3 separate regions of the Homo sapiens genome follow, and regions 2 and 3 are each linked to region 1. The links come from fine-mapping of genetic effects on gene expression. A gene starts in region 1. Each other region holds a variant in brackets. All regions are shown on one strand. Distances are from middle to middle.

Region 1 (8,181 bases):
CTTTTCTTCCAACACATCAAGCAAAATTCTATCCCAGGATATTTGTACCTGCTATTCTGACCGTAGTGCTCGTCCCTAGGTATCCACGTAGTCATAGCTCTCTTCCTCCCCTCCTTCAATTCCTGCTCACTGAGTTCTTCAACACTTATATAATAGTATCTCTTGCATGGTGATTTGAAATACCTTCACAAAATTTTTGATGCTCTGTCCTTCAAGAGGTGAAGCCTAAATTCCTTCCCCTTGAGTGGACTAGACTTAATTATGTACTTTCACAAATAATGTGGCATAAATAACAGTGTGTGACTTCTAGGACTAGGCCATAAAAAGCATTGCTGTCTAAAGAGTCTCTCTTGGATCATTCTGGGGGAAACCAACTGCCATGTTGAGAGGACATACAAGCAATCCTATGGAGAGGCCCATATTGCGGGGGGAACAGGCCCCCTGCCAAGGGCCATGCAAGTGAGCCATTTTGGAAGTAGATCCTCCAGTTCCAGTCAAGCCTTCAGATGACTGCATCCCTGGCCAACCTTTTTACTACAACACCTTAGAGGACAATGAGTCAGAACCATCCAGACCCACAGAATTGTGAGAAAATAAATGTTTTTGTTTTAAGCTGCTAAATTATGGGGTGATTTGTTACACAGCAATAGGTAACTAATGCCCCCTTTTATGTTCCCCCCAACCCAGCTACATTTTTCTCCATGGTACTTACCACTATCTGACACACTGTATATTTCCCCCACTTAGAATTGTACCATTATAATAAGGACTTTGTCTTATTTGCTCCTGTGTCCAACAGTGCCTGGCAAAAAAAATAGATAATAAATATGTGTTGGATGAATGAAGCATGGGTCTCTGAAGGTCTAGGTCTGTCTCCGTCTCTGTGAGGTATAAGACCAGACTGCGGGTATGAGAGGCAGCCTTTCCTTTTCACAGATGAAGAGAGATAAACCAAGTCCCAGTCAAGCATATTCCTTCCCCTCAGCCCTTCCCAGTTGTAGCCCTCCTGGCCCAGACCCCAAAAGTGGATTAACTTTGCTTGATTGATTTGGGAGCTGGGGGAGTGACTGCCCAGCCCCTTACCATTCAACCCAAACCCTACAAAGCGATCTCCAAACACTCAGAACTGGAATTTCCCCAAGCCAATTCCTACCTTTCTAGGAAGACTCTGGCCACCTACCTTTGTCCATGGACCTCCTCTGAGCAGCCAGGGGAAGCTGTGGTGGGGAAAAGGGAGCAAGCAGGGCACAAGGGTTCTGTGGATTGCTACCCTCTGCTCTCCAGTCTTCCAGTAGACTTCCAGGGCATGTCTGTCTGCCTGGCACATTCACTGATTCTCCCCTCCCAGCATCAGGGAGGGTTGGGCAGAGGAGGAGGCTTGGCTCTGCCCCAGGATACTCACACCAAACAAAGCCATGGGGGAGGAGGCATCAGTACCGACAGTGATTGGATCACTGGAGCTTCTGGAGGCTGGGGGGTTCTGATGGGCTCAGAGGTCTGAAATCTGAGGTGGAGGACACTGGGGCAGCCAAAGGAATGAATGGGGTGAGCCTCAGCGTGGCCAGGAATGGGCCATAGAGAACCAGGACTTAGTGCTGCAGTAGAAGCTGGGCACAGAAGGGTGCAGAGAAGGGTGGCGGCTGGAGGCAGGGAGAGCAGGGAGGAGGCACCCACCATGGTCAGACCCACCATGGTCAGAAGAGCCGGTGGTTTGAGCCAGAGCAAGCTGAGGCTGAGAGGAGTGGACTGATTGGGAGAGGACAAGGGAGGAGGGAGGAGACAAAGGTCGTGTTTGGATTCCTGCCTTCTGGGGGTGTGAGGTCAGAAGACAGTCTCTGGTGCCACAGTTTCATACCTATGCCAAGTGTCACCCCTACAGACACCTGCTGTTCACTTACACACTTGGCATCACCTCACAGTGTCCCTCTGTTTGGTAAGTGGTCCCCTTGGGCACAGGAAGAAATAGGAAGTATGAGGATTCCCGGGAGGAGTGGGGTCCAGGCTGTTCAGAGCAGAAATTCTGAGAGGCCTGCCACTCAGAACCCCCAAATAAGGAACAGCATTTCAGCGTCTTGGGAATAGTTAGGGGGAGGGCGCAAAGCAGTGGGCTGAGGGGGTCTGGAGATACAGATGTGGCAGTCAGGCACACATAGGTGGAGAATGTGTGTGAACATGGGCGAAGTGCCGGTCACTGTTGAAACAAACCTATGATGAGTACCAGAGGTTCATTATACTATTCACTTGTCTATGTTTCAAAATTTTCATAATACAGGCTGGGTACGGTAGCTCATGCCTGTAATCCCAGCACTGTGGGTGGCCAGGGTGGGTGGATCACTTGAGGTCAGGAGTTCGAGACCAGCCTAGCCAAAATGGTGAAACCCCATCTCTACTAAAAAGACAAAAATTAGCCGGGTCTGGTGGTGGACGCCTGTAATCCCAGCTAATTCCAGCTATTCGGGAGGCTGAGGCAGTAGAATCACTTGAACCTGGGAGGCGGAGGCTGCAGTGAGCCCAGATCGCGCCACTGCACTCCAGCCTGGGTGACAGAGACTCTGTCTCCAAAAAAGAAAAAAAAGAAAAGAAAGAAAAAGAAAAGAAAAGAAAATTTCCATAATAGAATGTCAAAAGAGACAAAAACTGTGTGTGGCTGTGTATCTGCATGCGGTGAGTGTGCAGTCAGCTTAAAGACCTCTGAGAGTGTGTGAGTGCATAGGTGTGGGTCCACCACCATGTGCACTCATGTGTGCAAACCGCAGCATGCCCGCAGTGGGGGACAGCACGTAGGCAGGGCAGGGGTGCTCAAGGCAAAGGGAGAAGCTTCTATTCTGACCAGACCCTCCACGCACACCCCAGCATCTTGCAGAGGGATTCCCCTCTTGATCACAGCGTGCCCAGGCCATTGGCACTGTGGTGACCATGTCACGGAACGTGTGAGACTGGGAAGCTATGCGCCTGAACTTGTGACAAGGTGTGTTGGTGTGTGGATGCGGCTATTTGTATGTGGAAGCCCAGTGCCGAGTGTGGGTGTCGGGGGCACGACTTGTGAGGCTGGGCGGGGCTCTGGTCCGGAGTCCGGTGGCGGTAGAGCCCTCATTTTCGCACGATTCCCCCGCAGCTTTCCAGCGCCCCCTGCCCCCGAAGCTGGCTGGAAAGAAGGTGGGAGACACCTGTTGGGGAGCTGAGAGCGGCAGATCCCACAGGGGCCTCTCCCCATGCGCCCCGCCCGCCCTGCCCCGCTCGGGTCCCGCCCCCGCGGCCGCCGCAAGCAGCGCGGCGAGTGAGCGCACAGCCGCCAGAGGAGCACAGGGCGGCGGGAGCGCACCGCCGGGACCCAGCCGAGGCCAGGGCCGCCTGGGAGGCGGGCGGAGCAAAGGCAGCGCCGTGGAGACGCCAGGGGCAGCGGGCCACGCCAGGCAGGTGAGTGCGGCCGCGGGGCGCCCGGAGCGAGGGAGCCGGGCGTCGCGACTCTGCCGCCTCCTGCCCGTCCGGTCCCGTGCCCGTCCCAGGCTCTGCCCCACCGCCCTCCATCCCCGCGACTCCTTGGTCCCTGTCCTCTGCCCCTCTCTCCGGCTGTTTTTCCCGTCCCTGTCTCTGTCGGTCCCTCTCTATTTAACTGTCTCTTTCTAATCTCTCTCTTCTGTCCGTTTCCTGCTGTCTTGGTCTTTCCCTATATCTCAACCCCTGTCTATTTGTCTATCTCCGCCTCTGTCTCTCCGTCTCTGTCCGTCTCTGAGCTACCTGTCACTTAGGTCTTTTATCTGTTGCTCCTCTACCTCTCTTACCCTCCCTGTCTCTCTACCCAATATTCTATCTCTCTCCATCTCTGTCTGTCTACCCTGTCTCTGCCTGATACCTCTGCCTCTCTCCATCTTGGTCCCTCTCAGTCTCTGTGTCACCCCACTTCTGTCTCTCCTTGTCACCCTGTTCCATCTCTATTTTCACATCTCCCTGTCATTGTCTCTGTCGGACATCCCCCTTCTCCTTTTCTTTCTCTCTCCCTTCCTTCACCATTTCCCGATGTCTCTTGGTCCCCGTCACCCTCTCTGATCTGCTCACTCTTCCAGTCCTCAGTCAATGGCCATTTGATTCCCCGGGTCTGGTCCTGTTTCTGTTCACCTCTGGGAAAGCCATCTTTCTGCCTCTTTCCTTGTGACCCCTGCACTTCCCTGAATCCATGACCACCTCCCCCTGTGTTGGGGGGCTCTGGGGGCAGTAGGGCCCAGCACCCATAATTCCCTCCCCCACAGGCGGCCCTTTCCTCGGGGTCCCGCCTGGTACCAGGGACCCCCTCAGCTGGGGGACTGCGCCTGGAAGCTGTCATGGAGGCCCTGCAGAAGCAGCAGGCAGCTCGGCTGGCCCAGGGGGTGGGGCCATTGGCCCCTGCATGCCCGCTGCTGCCACCGCAGCCTCCCCTGCCTGACCACCGGACCCTACAGGCCCCTGAGGGGGCCTTGGGGAATGTTGGGGCTGAGGAAGAGGAAGATGCTGAAGAAGATGAGGAGAAGCGGGAGGAAGCCGGGGCAGAGGAGGAGGCAGCTGAGGAGAGCCGTCCAGGGGCCCAGGGCCCCAGCTCGCCTTCTAGCCAGCCCCCTGGACTCCATCCCCACGAGTGGACCTACGAGGAACAATTCAAGCAGGTAGGACCTATGCCCTCAATGTCCGGCCCTCTTCCCTATCTCTCTCTTCTGGCAAAAGCACAGCCAGGTGATTAGCAGCCCACCCACCCCCACCACCCTCTGCAAGATGAAAAGAGACACAGAGACACGGAGACCTATAGAAAGACAGAGAGAAGATTGGAGGATAGTGACAGGGAGGGAAAGACAGATGCCTGGCTAATTTTTTAAAATTTCTTTTGTAAAGACAAGGTTTTCTTGTATTGCCCAGGCCGGTCTCGAACTCTTGACTTCAGGTAATCCTCCCACCTCAGCTTCCCAAAGTGCTGAGATTACAGGGATGAGCCACCATGCCCAGCCAGGTGTAGGGAAGGCAGTCTAGGGGCTGGGGATTCCAATGCCAGCACCACCCTGCCTACCTTCTCACACATCAAGTCACAAGGTCATATTCCAGTGACCAGTGGGGGTGACCCAGTTGCTTCCTCTGTCTTTGGAAGCAGAATGGAGGTTATCACTCACTTGGCAGGCTGATACACCTTTCCTTTCTTTCCTGTCACCTCCTCCCTAACCCTGGCCCCATGCAAATCTCCCTGGCCTGAGTTCCACGGATGATAGTTCCCAGCCTGGGATGGCCACTACAGCCGCAGTATGACTAAAGGGCTCCTCCGCAACTCAGAATGACAAGACTTCATTCACAGGGCCTTAATCTGAGGTTCTTTCTCCCTGGAGAACCCTTCTGGGTGTTATTCTAAGGACACTACTCAAGGCTGTCACTATGAAGGTGTTACACAGGGCTGTGTCTCCAGGTGTGCTATTCTGGTACTTGTAGGGTGTTGGTCTGGGTATATTCCAAAAGTGTTGATCTGTGACTAGTACTCTGGCATTAGTATAAAACTGAGTGTTACTCAGGGCTCTGTTCTGGATATGTGGTCTAGAGACTGTTTCTCCTAGGTATAATTCTAGGGGTTATTACTTGGATCTAAGTAATAACATCTTAGACTTAGGGCTCAATTTTTGTGGGAATGTGGCTCTAAAGGTGGATCTGGGGTTTATTACTCATGGATATTTTGTTTGTTTTATACTCTGAGGATTCTTATGGGGATGGAGTGATGGAATATTATCTATAGGTGTTACTCAAGGACTGTTACTCTGGGTCAGTGACTCAAGGGGTGGTTCTCTTGACTAGTATTCGGGAGTTGATGCAGGAGGTGGGACTCCAGATTACCAGGAAGAGTTGAGATGGCCTGTGGATCCTTTAAACTCTGACCCCACAGGTCCTAGGTGGTACAGGGCCAGTGCCTCTATAGCAGCGTCTGTAGGCAGGTTAACTGCCTCTGAAAGGAAATCAGACCAGAAGATGAGCTGAAGGGCCCTGGGTGTCAACCCAGGAGCTTCTGAGCATCACCCTGCCTGAGGGGTGGGTTAGGAGCATCTCTGCCCTTCAGTCACCCCCAGCCCTGGCATACAGGGATGTGAACACCATGAAGTCCTTGCATGAATGAATCAGAGCATCAGATATATGTTTGTCTCCTCAGTCTGGTATACAACCCCAGCCTAGCTTCCTTCCTGGGGCTCTAAATTTCCCATGAGGGTGGGGGAAGACTGAGCCCCAGAGGGCAGGCTGAGCCTCCAAGCTCCATCCTGTTCCTCTCTTCCCTTACTCCCCAGATGGGTGGTTTGAATGGCCCAGGGTACCACTACCAGTACCAGTCTCTGTATGTACTAGAAAAAGGCACCCCTGCCTGCCCCTAGGCGGAGAGAGCCTAATGCTAATCCCAGGGAGTCCACATTGAGATCCTACTGACTCCTTCAGCTAGGGACCCTTGTTCAGGGTACAACCTGAATTGGGGTCAAGGGAGGGAGGGGGAGTCAGCAGAGCTGTAGAATGACCCCAATCCTTCCCCAGCTGTATGAGCTCGATGCAGACCCCAAGAGGAAGGAATTTCTGGATGACCTGTTTAGCTTCATGCAAAAGAGGGGTGAGTGGCATGATGTGGGGGAAGGGCCCTGGAATTGCCCCCTTACCAGGTTTGAGGAAACCCGGTTGGGTTCTCCCTGCTGAGGCCTGAGCTTGGCAGCACCTGTCCTTTGGGCCCTCGATAGCGTCTTTAACCTCTGACCCTGTCCCCCTCCTCCACCCCAGGATTAATTAGTGGCCAGCCCACTGGCAGGTTAATGAGTTTGGGATCAATTGGGAGGGTGGGAGGGGGAACTGATGGGAGCCTGGCCTGGGGTGGGAGGGTCCCAGAATCAGAGGGCTGAGAATGCCTTGGTTCTGTGTCCAGGGTCCTTCCTCCAGCCATGTCTTCCCTGTTTTCCCTTGATTCAGGCAGGGGACACCTCACGTGCTCTACAGCAGGAAGGACTAGGAATAGACTGAAGGAAGGACTTCCCAAGGGGTGGGCTGGGGACTATGTGAGTTGAGGCTGTGGAGGAGGAGAAATTCCTTTCCAGGAATGTCAGAGCTGGAGGAGAACGCAAGAAGGGTCCAGGAGGGCATCAGGGTGGGCGGCAGTCCATCACTTCAGCTTTTTCCCAGATTCATGGGACCGAACACTGACTCATTATCTCTCTCTGCAAAGCTAATTAACTCACTCAGAGCGCAGCCTGATAAGCCGCTAATTAACTGGCTGCCCTGTTACCCCCCGCCCCCCCACCGCCTTTAGTGCAGCTGCTGGCCCACTTCCCACTCCCGGCCCTCACCCCAGCACCTCTTTCTGGTCCCTTACCTTCCCAGGGACCCTCAGTAGGGACCTAAGTCCTTTTGGTTCCCAGGGAGGCCCATTCTGGTTCCAGTGTTCCCTCTCTGGCCCTTCCTCGAGGCCTCCCCTCCACTGGGGTAGCGGGTGTGAACCGATCCCAGCATTGCCTGCCTCCCTTCGGTCCCTGCCTCCCACCGCTCCAGCTGCAGGGGGAGGGGGTCCCGCGGGGCCGATAATTTTCCCCCATTAATCAGGCCGCAGCTAATTGTTCGGGTCCAAAGGCGCGGCGGAAGGGGACGGGATCGGTAAGGAATTAACTGGGGCCCATCGCTCAGCGCAGACAGGCCCCTTTGTCAGGACTGGCCGGCGGGGGCGGCGCGGGCTGCGGAGTCGGCGGGCCGAGGCGGGAGTTGATTCTTTTCCCGCCCGTCATCCCCCAGCCTTGGGCAGCCACCCGGGGGCTGCTGCTTAGGGGAGGCCGGCTCTTCAGCACTGTCCGAAAGTCCTTCCTGCGGTCTACCCCAGGGGACAGCAAACTAAAGTTTGCAGGCCAAACCCAGCTGCCTGCAAGATAAGAATGGTTTTTACTTGTTTAAATAGTTGGGGGACAAAATTTAAAGATGAATAACATCTCCAGACTGGTGAAATTCGAATTTCAGAGTCTATATTATTGGAACACAGCCGCATCCATTCCTTCAGGTATTCTCTATGGCCGCCTTTAGGCTACAATGACAGCGTTGAGTAGTTGTGACAGAGACCATTTAGCCATCTGGCCTTTTACAGAACTTTGCCCCCCCCCGTTCTAGCCTCCTGTCCTTCTTGCTAAAACAGAGACCCTGGGGTTCTGTGGGCTCCGCCCAAGTCTC
Region 2 (8,181 bases), 47 kb before region 1:
CACTGCCACCAATTCTACTGCCACCACCAAAATGGATTCCCCATGGTCCTTGCTTCTTTGCATCACTAATACTTGATTCACAGCCCTGAGAAGGTACATCCAGATTGGTTGGACTTTCTTAGATGCAAGAGAGGCTGGGAATGTGAGTATCTGGCCTGTAGGGCTTTTATGCAGGAAGGGGGTTCAAACCAGACAGGTGTTAGTTTAAACTCTAAAGGGACAGAACTAATGGAATAGACATATCTAAAGGGGCCGGGTGTGATGGCTCAGGCCTGTAATCCTAGCACTTTGGGAGGCCAAGGCAGACGGATCGCCTGAGGTCAGGAGTTCCAGACCAGCTGGCCAACATGGTGAAACCCCATCTCTACTAAAAATACAAAAATTAGCCGGGCATGGTAGCCCATGCCTGTAGTCCCAGAGACTCAGGAGGCTGAGGTGGAAGAATTGCCTGAACCCGGGAGGTGGAGGTTGCAGTGAGCCGAGATCGTGTCACTGCACTCCAGCCTGGGTGACAGAGCAAGACTCTGTCTCAAAAAAAAAGAAAAAGAAAGAGCCAGGCATGGTGGCTCTTAATCCCAGCACTTTGGGATGCCTAGGCGGGCGGATCACTTGAGGTCAGAAGTTCAAGACCAGCCTGGTCAAAATGGTGAAACCCTGTCTCTACTAAATATACAAAAATTAGCTGGGTGTGGTGGCAGGCGCCTGTAATCCCAGCTACTCAGGAGGCTGAGGCAGGAGAATCGCTTGAACCCAGGAGGCAGAGGTTGCAGAGTGAGCGATACTGCGCCATTGCGCTCCAGCCAGGGCAACAAGAGCAAAACGTCATTCCAAAAAAAAAAAAAAAAAAAGGAAGGAAGGAAGGAAAGAAAGAAAATATATAAAGGGGGGGAGTTTATTAAGTATTACCTCACACGATCACAAGGTCCCACAATAGGCCGTCTGCAGGCTGAGGAGCAAGGAGAGACAGTCCGAGTTCCAAAACTGAAGAACTTGGAGTCCAACATTCAAGGGCAGGAAACATCCAGGATGGGAGAAAGATGTAGGCTGGGAGGCTAGGCCAGTCTCTCTTTTCACATTTTTCTGCCTGCACATATTGCCGGCAGCAATTAGATTGTGCCCACTCACATTAAGGGTGGGTCTGCCTTTCCCAGCCCACTGACTCAAATGTTAATCTCCTTTGGCAACACCCTCACAGACACACCCAGGATCAATACTTTGAATCCTTCAATCCAATCAAATTGACACTCAGTATTAACCACCAGGACACCTAAAAGAGAAGAAGCCAGCCATTCAAGGAGGAATGACCAGTGTGGCCAGAGGACAATGGACGAGGAGGAGATGGCATAAGAAGAGGTAGGACACAGAGGCTGGAATCATAGGATCCAAGTCTTTGCAGGCCACAAGAAGGAGTGAGGATTTTGTTCTATAAGTGCTGTGAAAGATTTAATCTGAGGAGTAACATGATCTCATTAACAGTTTACTGGCTGGGCGAAGTGGCTCACACCTGTAATCCCAGCATTTTGGGAGGCCCAGGCGGGTGGATCACGAGGTCAGGAGATCGAGAACATCCTCTTTCTAACACGGTGAAACCCCGTCTCTACTAAAAATACAAAAAATTAGCCAGGCGTGGTGGCGGGCACCTGTAGTCCCATCTACTCGGGAGGTTAAGGCAGGAGAATGGCGTGAACCCGGGAGGCGGAGCTTACAGTGAGCCAAGATCGTGCCACTGCACTCCAGCCTGGGCGACAGAGCGAGACTCCATCTCAAAAAAAAAAAAAAAAAAAAAAAAACAGTTTACAAAGACCCTATCAGCAGTCAGGAAAAATGAATTGTACAAAGAATGGGGAAGTCAGAGGGCTTTTCCAGTAGTCTAGGAAAGAGATGATGCTGGCCTAACCTAGGTGGTGGCAGTTGGAATAGAGAAGAGGAATCCAATATGGACTTATAAGTAGAACATGAGGCTGAGCTGATGGATTATATTTGAAGCATAAGGGCAAGGGAAAAACCAGGGATGACACCAGGCTTCAGGCCTGAGCCCCTGGAGGGATGGTGGCTTCCTTTTCTGAGATGGATAACTGGGGAGAAGACGAAGACAAGCTAGGAGGGAGGTGTTGAGAATCAGGAGTTTGGTTTTGGAATAAGGTATCTGATATAGTTTGGAAATGTGTCCCTGCCCAAATGTCATGTTGAAGCGTCATCCCCAGTATTGGAAATAGGGCCTGGCGGGAGGTGATTGGATCACGGGAATGGATTTCTCATGGAGGGCTTAGCCCCACCCCCTTGGGGCTGTCCTCCTGAAAATGAGTGAGTTCTCATGTGATCTAGCTGTTTAAGAGCGTGTGGCATCTCCCTCTGTTTCTCTCTTGCTCCTTCCCCTGCCATATGAGATGCCTGCTCCCCCTTCAGCTTCTGCCGTGATTGTAAGCTTCCTGAGTCCTCCTCAGAAGCAAATGCCAGTGTTATGCTTCCTGTATTGCTTGCAGAACTGTGAGCCAACTAAACCTTTTTTCTTATAAATTACCCAGTTTCAGGTATTTCTTTATAACAATGCAAAAACAGCCCAATCCAGTATCTGTAAGAAAGCCAAGGAAATCCCAAATAGGCAGTTGGCTCTGCAGCCTGGAACCCAGAAGTAGATCTGTACACCATCCCTGGCTCTTCCAGGGTCTCACTCTGTTGCCCAGACTGGAGTGCAGTGGCATAATCATGGCTCACTTCAGCCTCAACTTCCCAGGCTCAAGAGATCCTCCACCTCAGCCTCCTGAGAAGCTGGGACTACAGGGGCCCGCCACCATGCCCAGCAAAGTTTTGTATTTTTTGTAGAGATGTGGTTTCCCCATTGTGCCTAGGCTGGTCTTGAACTCCTGGGCTCAAGTGATCCACCTGCCTTGGCCTTCCAAAGTGCTGGGATTACAGGCATGAGCCACCATGCCCAGCCCAACTTCTACCTCTTTAATGTCTCTGGTATCTGCGCCACTTCTTCAGCCCTGCTACTACAGCCCAGCCCTGACTTCAGCCTCCTTCCTAAGGGCAGTTGCAACATCTGGGCTTGGCCATCCCCATGGCTCCTTCCTCAGGAATTTTTCAAAATTATATATGACCAGAAATAACTCCCCCACTCCACCTCCCACACACATATAGCCTCTCCCACCACTAGCCCTTTCCCCGCCCCACCTACATTGGGATTAATCACAAACTCTTATGTCCCTCCTCTGAGCCTTTGTGCTTGCTGTTCATTCTGTCTGGAATGTCCTTTCTCCATTCCCACCCATCCTTGAGGTTCTTTTTGCAAAGCTATCTCCTTCAGGCAGCCTCCCCTCCCTACTTCCCTCTGACACCCCAGGGCTCCCCATCTCCAACCACATAGCAGAGGTCACCCTCAGCTTTACATCCAGGGGCCCTTGTTTCCTGAGCTTCTCCCAAGCAAGCTCAGCCCAGGCCCAGGCACCCTGAGGTTCAGAGTGACCCAAACTGCAGGGAATAGAGGAGATAACTATTGAGGAAACCCTGGCAGTGGCGTTATTTCAAGCTCCAGGGGATAGGACGCAGGGAAGGGGTGTATGCTATTGCTCAAGACTTCCCCCTATCCTGATATCCCATCACCTCCAGAAGTTCTGTGCAATGTTCCACCCACACTCTGGGACTGCAGAGCCAAGCTCTGCCCCTCCAGCTGGACTGAGACCCTCCAGACATGAATAGAGGATTTGCAAAAGGATAGGAAGTGAAGCAGACCCCTTCCCAGGATCAGGGACTTTCAGAAGTTGAGTAATTTGGTTTCTTGCTCATTTCCAGCCCCTTTCTGGAACAAGACATGACAGC[C/T]CACTTAGGCCAGATCCCCTCTTCCACAGGCCAGGAACCACACACTCCATTTTCCCCGTATGCTAGACGCCCTCTGCAGGCCCCATGAGGTTGAGAGTCCAGGCCAGGAGCCCCTTTTCCCTAGGCACTGGACGCCCCCTGCAGGCCCTTGCGGATTGAGAACCACAAAGAGATGGATTGAAAAAGCAGCCAGAAAACAAACCTGCCCAGCGCAGTGGCTCACACCTATACTCCTAGCACTGCAGGAGGCCAAGGCGGGAGGATCACTTGAGCCCGGGAGTTTGACACCAGCCTGGGCAACACGGTGAAACCCCATCTCTACTAAAAATACAAAAAATTAGTGGGGTGTAGTGGCACGCACCTGTAGTCCCAGCTACTTGGGAGGTAGGAGGATAGCTTGAGCCCAGTGGTGGTTACAGTGAGCCGAGATCACGCCACTGCATTCCAGCCTGAGTGACAGAGCGAGACCCTGTCTCAAAAAACAAAAATAACAACAACAACAAAAACACCATACACAAACACATAATTGCCGACACCCTTACCCACCTACGTGTCTCTACCCACACACATACATACACAGACACATAATCAATCACACAGCCAATCACTCACATACACCAAGGACACACTACAATCGTTTAAGCATATAATCACAGTACAAACACAAGGGCACTCCCTGTTCATGTTCCCAATAATAAAACATAATATGTCTTCCCCATTGATCCAGACTAGGATTGGCAAACTATGGCCCATGGGCCAAATGCAGCCTGCCACCTGTTTCTGTAAATAGAGTTTTATTGGAATACAGCCATGCTTATTCATTTAAATATATCTATGACTGCTTTTGTGCTGCAACAGCAAAGCTGAGTAGTTGCTACAAAGACTGTATGGCCCACAGAATCTTAAATATTTACTATCTGGACATTTACAGAAAGTTTACCAATCCCTGATCCAGACTCAGCTTCAGAATTGAAGTTGGCAAGTGAAACAAGACTAATTGTCTTCAGTGTCTTGGCATTGAAAGATGGTCAGAGAAATAAATGGATGGGATGGACGGATGGATAGATGGGCAGATGGACACATACAGGTAATAAAGCAGAGTTTTGCTCCGAATACCAGTGTTCCACTCATTATAAACTGGGAAATCTTGGGAAAATTAACCTTTCTGGGTCTTAGTTTCCCATCTGTATAATAGGGATAATACAGTCATTTTTACTGAGGGCTTTTTCGGTTGCAAACGGCAAAAACCCAATTCAAAGCACCTTGAGCAAAAAGTTAAATTTGTTATATCAAAACTAGGTATGAGGCCAGATGCAGTGGCTCACGCCTGTAATCCCAGCACTTTGGGAGGCTGAGGCAGGTGGCCTGCTTAACCTCAGGAATTTGACACCTGCCTGGGCAACATGGGGAAATTCTGTCTCTACAAAAATTAGCCAGGCTGGCCAGGTGCGGTGGCTCACACCTGTAATCCCAGCACTCTGGGAGGCCGAGGCAGGCAGATCACAAGGTCAGGAGATCAAGACCATCCTGGCTAACATGGTGAAACCCCGTCTCTACTAAAAATACAAAAAATTAGCCAGGTTTGGCAGCGGGTGCCTGTAGTCCCAACTACTCTGGAGGCTGAGGCAGGAGAATGGCGTGAACCTGGGAGGCAGAGCTTGAAGTGAGCCGAGATCACACCACTGCACTCCAGCCTGGGCGACAGAGCGAGACTCCGTCTCAAAAAAAAAAAAAAAATTAGCCAGGCTGTGGCACCCACCTACTCAGGAGGCTGAGGTGGGAGAATCACTTGAGCCCAAGAGGTGGAGGTTGCAGTGAGCCGAGATCACACCTCTGCACTCCAGACTAGGCAACAGAGCGAGGCTCCATCTTAAAAAAACAAACAAACAACAACAACAAAAAAGCTTCTCATTAAGGAGAAGATTATCTGCAACCCTGGCTGGATCCAGGGGTTGAAATGTTGTTATCTCCTTCTCTTACCTCAATTCCTCTCTTTTTTTTTTTTTTGAAATAGAGTCTCGCTCTGTAGCCCGGACCGGAGTGCAGTGGCACGATCTCGGCTCACTGCAACCTCCCGCTCCCAGGTTAGAGAATCCTCCTGCCTCATCTCTCGAGTAGCTGGGACTGCAGGTACATGCCACCACGACTGGCTAATTTTTGTATTTTTAGTAGAGACAGGATTTCACTAGGTTGGCTAGGCTGGTGTCAAACTTCTGACCCCAGGTGATCTGTCCGCCTTGGCCTTCCAAAGTGCTGGGTTTACAGGCATGAGCCACCATGCTCTGACTAATCTTTTTGTGTAGGGATCTCATTCCTGTCATAGACAGGTTGCTATGGTTTGAATATTTGTCCCCTCCAAAACTCATGCTGAAATTTAATCCCTGGCTGGGCATGGTGGTGCACACCTGTAGCTGTAGTCTCAGCTACTTGGGAAGCTGAGGCAGAAGAACTGGCTGAGACCAGGAGTTCAAGGCTGCAGTGAGCCATGATCATGCCACTGCACTCCAGCCTGGGCGACAGAGTGAGACTTCGTCTCTTAAAAATATATAACAAATTAAAAATAAATAAAAGAAATTTAATCCCAAATGTAGCAATATTGAAAGGTGGGGCCTTTAAGTAGTGATTGGGTCATGAGGGCTCTGCCTTGATGAATGGATGAATCCATCCATGGAGTAATGGGTTATTATGGGTGTGGGACTAGAGGCTTCCTAAGAAAAGACACGGGCTAGGACACTCAGCCCCCTCACCATGTGATGCCCTGTGCCACACCTCACGACCCTGCAGAGAGTCCCCACCAGCAAGAAGGATCTCACCAGGTATGTCCCCTCAATCTTGGACTTCTCAGCCTCCATAACTGTAAGAAATAAATTATTTTTCTTTATAAATTACCCAGATTTAGGTATTCTGTTAAGAAACAGAAAATGGTCTAAGATACAGGTGCTCTTCTAGTAGCAAGAAATATGGCCACTAGAAGCCTTAAGCCTAAATTTTTATATTGATTGATCTAAAAGAGACTCTCTTTCTCCTAGCATCCAAACATCAAATCTCATAGAAAGCTCTGGTTAACTGTACTTGTGATACATACTCAGTTCTTCAGTCTATCACAGTGGCCAGGAAAAGGGGTACTCTGATCAGAGCACTGTAGCTGACAGCCCCACCAAGACCATGTTAAGTGGGAAAGGAGTTTCCTACAGGAACCACAAAAAGGGGTATAGAAAAGTAGAAAAGTGGTCTGCATAAACAAAAACAGCCCACAGCAATCCACTTCATAGATTTGTCATGAGACAATGAATTTAAAGCATTTTGCATGGTGCCTGGCACTTAAGTATCATAAATGTTAATTATTACCATAACTGAGAGACAAACAAATGAAGGGAAACAATAAATGAATAATGGTTGAACATACAGATGAACAGGTCACAATGAATATATGAAAAAATAAATGAAAGATGAAAGAAGGAAGAATGGGCTGATGAAGAGATAAAGATGAGTAGACATATAGACACATGGATGGATGGATGGATGGATGGATGGATGGATGGATGGATGGATGAGGCAGAAAAATACAGGCAATTAAATCTGCTCCACTATATACTCTAGATCTGGAATGGGAAACAGAATAGCACTCCACAATAGTGTCTTCTGAGAGGTCTATCTCTTGGGTCTGGCAGAACAGTTCTCTGGGTGACCGTACACTGACCCAGTTCTCCTCCCTTTCTCACTTGGAATGCAAAATCTTGAGATAAGGAAGAGGTGACAGAAACAGACAAGGAACAGGCTCTCTTCTAGTCCCACCCCAGAAACAATATCCTTCAATGTTTTAGCCCAGGAATTCACATTGCCCTGGGGTATAAAACCCAAGGCAGGCTGCTTTCTGGAGTCCTTGGCTGCAGTGCAAGTGCAGCATAGGCAGATGAAGCCATCTGCCCTGGGCAGCTTTCCTGAGCCTTGGGGGCTGCCTCACAATTAATCCTGGGATTCTGTTTCCCTTGCTGCCTACCTGAGAGTAATAAATCCATTTCATATAACTTGTTGGATGTGTTCTCCCACTGGACTCAGACAAATTGGCAACCAGTACACAGTAAGCCTGCTTCTCAGGACTCCCTCATTCCTTTCTTTTCCTGTTACTCTGTGAGCAGACCAAACCCTCTCCTCAAAAATCCCTCTCAATTCCCAGGATAGGGAGGCCACGGTAGAGAATGGGCATGTTCTAGGCCAAGTTCTCCTCCAGCTATTCTAACTCAGCTCTGGGGCATAGGAAAATGGGTCAATAAGGGAGAGGGACAGTGCTGGCTGGGCCAGGAAGGTGAAGTCCTAGAGTCCAGAGATGAGAGATAGGGGAGCTGAACCTGCTTCCAAAGA
Region 3 (8,181 bases), 630 kb after region 1:
ACTTCAGCTAGTACATGTTAAAATAGTTAAATGTAGTTAAAATGCAATAGATATTAAATCATAGATTTATTCACTGATACTTGAGAAACCTGCATTTTGCCTAGTCTGTGATCGTTCTAGTGATGAAAATGCTAAGTAACAAGTATCTCTTGCTAATGAGAATAAACTGAAGAGTTTCTTTCATCATTACTTCAAGCATAGCACCATGTTGAAGATCCTTGAGAAAATATGTCTAGGAGTGTGTTTTGTGATAGTAGCAGAATTCCACTTGTAAGACTTTAGGGTGTCATATAACTTAGTATGTACATGGAATGATGTTTTTTCTTCTTTTTTTTGAGGGGGGAGACAGGGTCTCGCTCTGTCTCCTGTGCTAGAGTGCAGTGGCACAATCATGGCTTATTGCAACCTTCACCTCCAGGGCTGAAGCAATCCTCCTACCACTACGCTCGGTTAATTTTTTGTAAAGATGAGGTCTCACTATATTGTCCAGTCTCGAACTCCTGGGCTCAAGCAATCCTCTCGTCTCTGCCTCCCAAAGTGTTGATTATAGTTGTGAGCCACTGCGGCTGGCCTTTGAAGTGTTCTAATCCAAATGGTGAAAGCCAGCATATGGAATATTGTCCCTGACAAAAAATTTGTATTGGATTTTCCATGAATGATGACCGTGTACTCATATAGTTCCACCTCATATTTAAGTTTAGGAATCCTGTGTGCTTGAATTAAATTTGATTATTCAGATACTTGATCTTGGGTATTCTGAGAATGTTGGTACGTATGTGTGTGCTGCTGATTAATGATCTGCTCCTTGGTCAACTTGGAGGAAGATTGATTTGTAGTTAGATTCTACCAGTGTTAGTGAAAAGACATGCATGGAATGGCCACAAAAAAATAAGTAAACATGTCCTCATTGTAAACTCAAGAGTCTAGAAGAGGCCATCTTCATGTAGAAGGATTATGTAATTCTGTATTTGTATAGAAGAATCTTAATATCAAGTGCCAGTTTTTTGTTTGCCTCTAACCATTTTCTGATATGTTCACTAGCTTATGGAAGTGACAGGGAAAAATCAGGATGAATGCATAGTGGCCCTACATGATTGTAATGGAGATGTGAACAAAGCTATCAATATATTGCTGGAAGGGAATTCAGACACAGTAAGTATTATTAATTGATTTGCATTGTTTACATTTGTCTCCAATTCCGTAGCACATTTTCAACTTCACCTTGTTTGGGGGTAGGGATGGAATGGATTATGGTGCCATTCCATATTTGTTTTAAGTTCCAGAAAGAACGATTACCTGAAAAGACTGTTTTTGTTATGTATGGTTTCTTCATGAAGTCGTAGAATCTGATGACTTGAAAGAGAACTTGGTGATCTACTCCAGCCTTACAGTTTCCAAAAATCTCTGTGCCTGTGTATATTTTCACCACCCCCACCTGAAAAGCATCTCTTGGCTCTGTTGCTTATGTTTCTTCATCTCAGTCCTCACCTCTGATTACTTCTTACATCTCTATTATAACAGAAAACCAGGATTTGCTGGTATATGTATTTGCTTATGTGGAATATTAAGTTTTCTTTTTTTTTTTTAATATTGGGTTAAGTTTGGTGAGCTTGCAGGCTCATGAGCTCAGGCCTTGGATTTTAAGAAGGATACAGCTAAAGCTACACCAGGCACTTGTCAGCCCTAAAATTTTGCTGTGTGTATATATTTATATTTATATATTATAGTTTTTATACATATGTATATATTTATTTATAAATATATATTTATTTAATAATTTTAAATTTTAAATAATTTAATTTTAAATTAAATTAAATTATTTAATAATATATTTAATAATATAAATATATTTATATATTTAATAATATAAATATATATATTTAATAATATAAATATATTTATATATTTAATATATATTATATATAATATTTATAATATTTGTTTAATAATATATAAATATATATACTTTATATATATATTTATATTTAATATATATATTTATATATTTATTTATTTTTTTGAGACAGCCTCACTCTGCCACCCAGGCTGGAGTGCAGTAGTGTGATCTTGACTCACTGCAACCTCCGTCTCCTGGGTTCAAGTGATTCTTTTGCCTCAGCCTCCCAAGTAGCTAGTACTACAGGCATGCGCCACCACGACCAGCTAATTTTTGTATTTTTAGTAGAGGTGGGGTTTCGCCATGTTGGCCAGACTGGTCTCAAACTCCTGACCTCAGGTGATCCACCCGTCTTGGCCTCCCAAAGTGTTGGGATTACAAGTGTCAGCCACCACACCTGACCTGTGTTTATGTTTCTTAAATTGAGGAAACTATTTTAGAGTAGATTAAAAAAAAATGACTCACCTAAAAGAGGATACAAAGATGAACACATCAATAACTACCTTTCCTTGGAAAATTTAAAACAAACAAACTGACCGTGTCAGTGTTCAGATTTAATTGAAGTCTCATTTTAGGGTCATGCTGCATTAGGTACAAGAAATACAAAAATGAACTCTGAGAAACTGAAAGCTAAAATGACTGTGTTTTTAGTTGATGTGAAACAAAGAGAATGAATTCTTTTAAAGTAAAAATTAACTAATGTGGAAAAGATTTCACTGTTTGAGTGTAGCAGTAATTGTTGGTAAAATTCCATGTAAGAGAACACTGGTACACAAGACAAACCATCAAATTTGTGATTTTTTTTTTTTGGGAAAACCATATTATATGATAAATTAAAATTTTGAATAGTTTTTGTTTACTGACCTGGGACTAAGTATCCTGGGTTTTGCAAAATATGGAGGATCTGTTTACCTTATCGCTAATGGGTACAGCAGAGAGTGGCTTTCAGTTATTTTCAAAGTGAACTGAAGAGCCTAACCGCCCTCTTTGTTTAGGGAAAAAAAAAAAAAAGAAAAAATCTTTGGGAATAAACAAAATAACCCAAATTGTTCACTGGAGAGGATCTTTTTGGATCTTTTTATGGTAGAGATAAGTCCAGACACTATTTTTTGTTGCCTTTCCTTTAGCTCCAGCAGATTTAATTCCTTTTCTCTGGTAGTTTGGTGAATTTTTAAGTTTTAAATGTCCAGTTTTCTCTTTCTGTTTTGAGTTTTAACACCCCCTCCTCCTTTGGGACCGAACCTGAAGGAGCTGGTTCTGGGCTATGTATTAGAAAGTAAGACTGACTGGGCACTGCGGCTCATGCCTGTAATCCCAGCACTTTGGAAGGCCTAGGTGGGCAGATCACGAGGTCAGGAGTTTGAGACCAGCCTGGTCAACATGGCGAAACCCCATGTCTACTAAAAATACAAAAAATTAGCCAGGTGTGGTGGTGGGCGCCTGCAATCCCAGCTACTCAGGCGGCTGAGGCAGGAGAATTGCTTGAACCCGGGAAGCAGAGGTTGTAGTGAGCCGAGATCGCGGCATTGCACTCCAGCCCAGGCGACAGTGCGAGACTCGGTCTCAAAAAAAAAAAAAAAAGAAAGCAAAGCTGAACTTTTCATGAAGAACACCTCTTTGGTTACCTCTTGAACGATTTTATAGTGTGGGCTATATCTGACTTCTTGTTTTCTTCAAAGATAAGAAAATAGCAAATGAAGTTCTGAATATAGTTGTGAAAGAATACACTTGTTCAGGGCTGAGTGGGCTGTGGGGGACAGAAGTAGAGGTAAAGTCTTTGTTTTAGTTGTTTGGTGTTTTGGGTTTTTTATTAAGACAGGGTCTCACTCCGTTGCCCAGGCTAGAGTGCAGTGGTGCCATCACGGTTTACTACAGCCTCGACCTCCC[G/A]GGCTTATGCCATCCTCCAGCCTGCCGAGTAGCCGGGACCACAGGCGCATGCCACTACGCTTGGCTAATCATTTTTATATTTTGTAGAGTTAGGGGGTCTCTGTGTTTCTATGTTGCTCAGGCTGGAGTCTTTGAAACCCTGGTTTGTTGAGGACCACTCTCTGGTACATCTTGTCTCTCATACTGTTTGCCTCATCTCTTACCTAGTTGCCATCTGCAGCACCTATGGCTAAACAGCTTTGATTATCTTCCCTTGACTGAGATAGAGTTAATTGGAGTAGGGTTGACAGAATATAAACACTGTGATGTTGCTAGGAGCAAGAGCATGAAGGCAAACGATTCTTTTCCTATTATCTAACCTTCCTCTGTGCTGAAACAAAATTATTACTTGGAAAAGGTGTTAAGTGGAATCGTCCATGATGTTTTTAAGGATAAATTTATTTTTTCTTATGTAAGTATATCTGTCACAAAGGAAGATATTGAACATAAGTACTGAACTTTTTGTTTCATCATAATGTTTGGTTGATGTGACAAAATTGTTTTGAAGTATCGGTCTCTTGAATTAATGTACTTAACTCTTTTTAGTAAGTTGTTTGTGTTGGTAGTTTTTGGCAAAGGCAAAGTGGTGGGAGAGTAATTTTTGAACTAGCTGGCTTCGAAGACTGCTGTTCTGATTATTATGTGGTGGCTGGGAGGACCTCTCCTCTTAGAGTTTCTTCAGACCTGTTCTGCAACTAGCAAAATACCGATAACAGAGGTTGCCAGAAATTCTCTTGGAAATCCTCCATAATTACTTGGTTAACTTTTTAAAGTATGCATGTGTGTATACTTTGCAGACTTCAGCAAAATACACAGTAATCTTTTTAGCAGTTACTATGGTATTGTAAAGATTGCTTCTTAAAGGTTCTTTTCCCTATTTGTGCCCCCCCCCCTCCGCCCGATAAGTTGTCTTTGTAGAGCTCATAAACCAAGACTTTGCTTGAGGGGCAGTAGGATGGGGAGGGTATCTTTTTTTTATTTTTATTTTTTTGAGATGGGAGTCTTGCGCTGTCACCCAGGCTGGAGTGCAATGGCATGATCTCAGCTCACTGCAACCTCTGCCTCCCAGGTTCAAGCAGTTCTCCTGCCTCAGCCTTCTGAGTAGCTGGGATTACAGACATGTGCCACCACGCCTGGCTAATTTTTTTTTTTTTTTTTTTTTGAGATGGAGTTTTGCTCTTGTTGACCAGGCTGGAGAGTAATGGCGTGATCTCGGCTCACCACAACCTCCTGCCTCCCGGGTTCAAGCGATTCTTCCGCCTCAGCCTCCCGAGTAGCTGGGATTACAGGAATGCGCCACCACGCCCGGCTAATTTTGTATTTTTAGTAGAGATGGGGTTTCTCCATGTTGGTCAGGCTGGTCTTGAACTCCCAACCTCAGGTGATCCACCCGCTCAGCCTCCCAAAGTGGTGGGATTACAGGCATGAGCCACTGCACCCGGCTGCTAATTTTTGTATGTTTAGTAGAGATGGGGTTTCACCATGTTGGCCAGGGTGGTCTGGAACTCCTGACCTCATGATCTGCCCACCTTGGGCTCCCAAAGTGCTGGGATTACAGGTGTGAGCCACCGTGCCTGGCCAGGGTATCATTTGCTATATGAAATGGGGTAAAGTGTTTCTCAGATGTTTTACAAAGACAGCTGGCCCCTTTATAAAGATAGAGTACCTTTCGGCGAGGCTGTGTAAAGATGTACATTGTGTATACATACACTTTATGCCAACTCTTCTGGGATGATTTTTCCAGGACCTCTGGAATTTACTTTTTGTATTCTAACCTAAGAGGACTGGATTCTGTTTTACACAGTTGTCTAGTATTTTCATATTAGCAAACATAATAAATTGAGTTTGTTCAGTGTGGGCATTATTTTCTCTGGCATAGATAAGCTTTATTGTTTAATTAGAAAAGAAATGCAGAAAAATATTAAAGATTAAATCAAATTAAACATCCTCACTTAAATAATGACTTATACCTCTTCCTTCAGTAAGTACATAGGCTCCTATTTGAACTAAAAAATGTAATTCTATATGCTGTTTGCTGATAGCTTGCTTTTTCTATCAAGGACCTCTTTCTATATGTACCTATGTAACTGGTAAAATGGCTACATACTGCTCCATTTATGGATACACTAGACTACTTAGTCTCCTGAATTTGATATTTTGGGAATCCGCCTCCCCTCCTTTTATGCTGTTGATCATTTTGTCTGCACATAAATGTTTGAACAATTCTTACGTTATTATTATTATTATTTTTGATACAGAGTCTCGCTCTGTCACCCAGGCTGGAGTGCAGTGGTGTGATCTTGGCTCACTGCAACCTCCACCTCCCAGGTTCAAGCCTTCTAGGTTCAATTGATTCTCCTGCCTCAGCCTCCTGAGTAGCTGGGATTACAGGTGCCTGCCACCACTCTCAGCTAATTTTTGTATTTTTAGTAGAGATAAGAGTTTCACAATGTTGGCCAGGATAGTCTCCAACTCCTGGCCTCAAGTGATCTTCCTGCTTTGGCCTCCCAATGTGCTGGGATTACAGGCGTGAGCCAGTGTGCTCGGCCACGTTGTTTTATTTGAATAAGGGCCTAGAAGTAGAATTGCTGGGTTGAAAGAGTATGCACCAAATAGGCCAGGCGCAGTGGCTTATGCCTGTAATACCAGTACTTTGGGAGGCCGAGGTAGGTGGATCACCTGAGGTCAGGAGTTCGAGAGCACCCTGGCCAACATGGTGAAACCCCGTCTCTACTAAAATTACAAAAATTCACTGGGTGTGGTGGTGTACGCCTATAACCCCAGCTACTCGGGAGGCTGAGACAGGAGTTATCACTTGAACCCAGGAGATGCAGGTTGCAGTGAGCCGAGACTGTGCCATTGCACTCCACTCTGGGTGACAGAGTGAGACTCTGTCTCAAAAAAAAAAAAAAAATTGGGGGGTACTATTTCTAAGTAACCTTCTAGAAAGGTTACAATAGATGCATGCTCACCAGAACTGTATGATAATACCTCATTGTTTCACCTTAACTATCAGGTGATAGTATATTCAGTCTTCATTATTAAAGCTTAGAGGTGGAACATAATTTATATCTTTTTCATATCCATTTTATATCTAATTAAATATGTGAGTTCATCACAGCTTTGCAGAAGACCAGATATTCCATTTCAAAAAAAGAGTTTGGAAGTTGGCTTCCACTGTTATGGAAATAATTCAACTTATCACCCAAATTTTAGTTTATTAATTTCCAGTGCTAATGTTTACTTTGGATATATAATGTCAAATTTTGTTTTTCTGTAAGATTTTTAAAAAGCATAAAACAGTTACTCTTAATTTTGGATGGAGTCATTTCCAGTCCCTTCTGAAATAAGGCAGATTATGAATAAGTAAATGGAAACTATTGGGCCAATTTTAGGATTTCTCTGTAACTACCCTGCTTGATAATTTTTATATCCACTTATAGTCAAGAATGTAGTATCTTTTTCTTTCTCAGCCATTTATATATATATATATATGGTAGATTAGATTTGGTATCACCATTAGGGGAGAGGTGGAGAAGGGAGGTTATATAAATTATTTGACTTCTCACTAGAAGAATTCTTTGGAGGTTAAAAATTTAGGTGCTTTATAAATTTTTTAAAAACCCACCAAAACCAAGCTAAAATTTTACTTATCTGCCATTAAATTGTTTTAGATAATTAGTTTGAATAATGGAACAGGCAAGGTTGTATTCCTGGAGCTTTTGGGGCATCATTCTAAGTAATTTTGTGGTCTTTGAATTAATAAGTAGATTTAAGGCCTAATAGAGAGGTAAGTGAGGTGGTGTAGAATAGGAGCTTGGGGAAATGACTTTTACTGTATTCCTAAATTTGCATAGGAAAGGGCTTTATGTTGGGAAAATGTACAGTATTTTGTCAGGTCAGCTAATAGCTGTAATTATTTAGCAACAGGAGCTTAGCAAGAGGATTGTTACCTTCATCATCAATAAAGTAGAACTATAGGGAAAGAATTTAAATGATAAGCAGGTGAGCTGCAAGCTGTGGGTAGTTAGGTTTGAAAGATACGTGCATGTGCCGGGCGCGGTGGCTCACGCCTGTAATCCCAGCACTTTGGGAGGCCAAGGCGGGCAGATCACGAGGTCAGGAGATCGAGACCATCATGGCTAACACGATGAAACCCCATCTCCACTAAAAATACAAAAAATTAGTTGGGCGTGGTGGCAGGCGCCTGTAGTCCCAGCTACTCAGGAGACTGAGGCAGGAGAATGTTGTGAACCTGGGAGGCGGAGCTTGCAGTGAGCTGAGAGGGCGCCATGCACTCCAGCCTGGGCGACAGAGCGAGACTCCGTCTCAAAAAAAAAAAAAAAAAGAAAGATACA

The links.
Region 2: its variant is fine-mapped to the expression of ARID3C in cerebellum (GTEx, PIP 0.98).
Region 3: its variant is fine-mapped to the expression of ARID3C in cerebral cortex (GTEx, PIP above 0.99).

What each region holds. Positions count from the first base shown.
Region 1 is chr9:34,624,153-34,632,333 of GRCh38, reverse strand. ARID3C (AT-rich interaction domain 3C) reads left to right here and starts at 3,268. Exons shown (of 8, transcript NM_001017363.4): 1 at 3,268-3,417; 2 at 4,248-4,637; 3 at 6,520-6,592. The coding sequence starts at 4,320. RefSeq lists silencers at 3,150-3,309, 3,360-3,459 and an enhancer at 7,592-8,140.
Region 2 is chr9:34,670,999-34,679,179 of GRCh38, reverse strand. It overlaps a transcript of PHF24 not described here. Among named protein-coding and RNA genes, the nearest start is that of CCL27, 12 kb to the right of the region's middle. The variant C/T (reference allele first, on the strand shown) is at 3,820.
Region 3 is chr9:33,989,194-33,997,374 of GRCh38, reverse strand. UBAP2 (ubiquitin associated protein 2) reads left to right here. Exons shown (of 29, transcript NM_001370062.2): 4 at 1,042-1,152. Among named protein-coding and RNA genes, the nearest start is that of SNORD121A, 40 kb to the right of the region's middle. RefSeq lists an enhancer at 8,027-8,181. The variant G/A (reference allele first, on the strand shown) is at 3,785.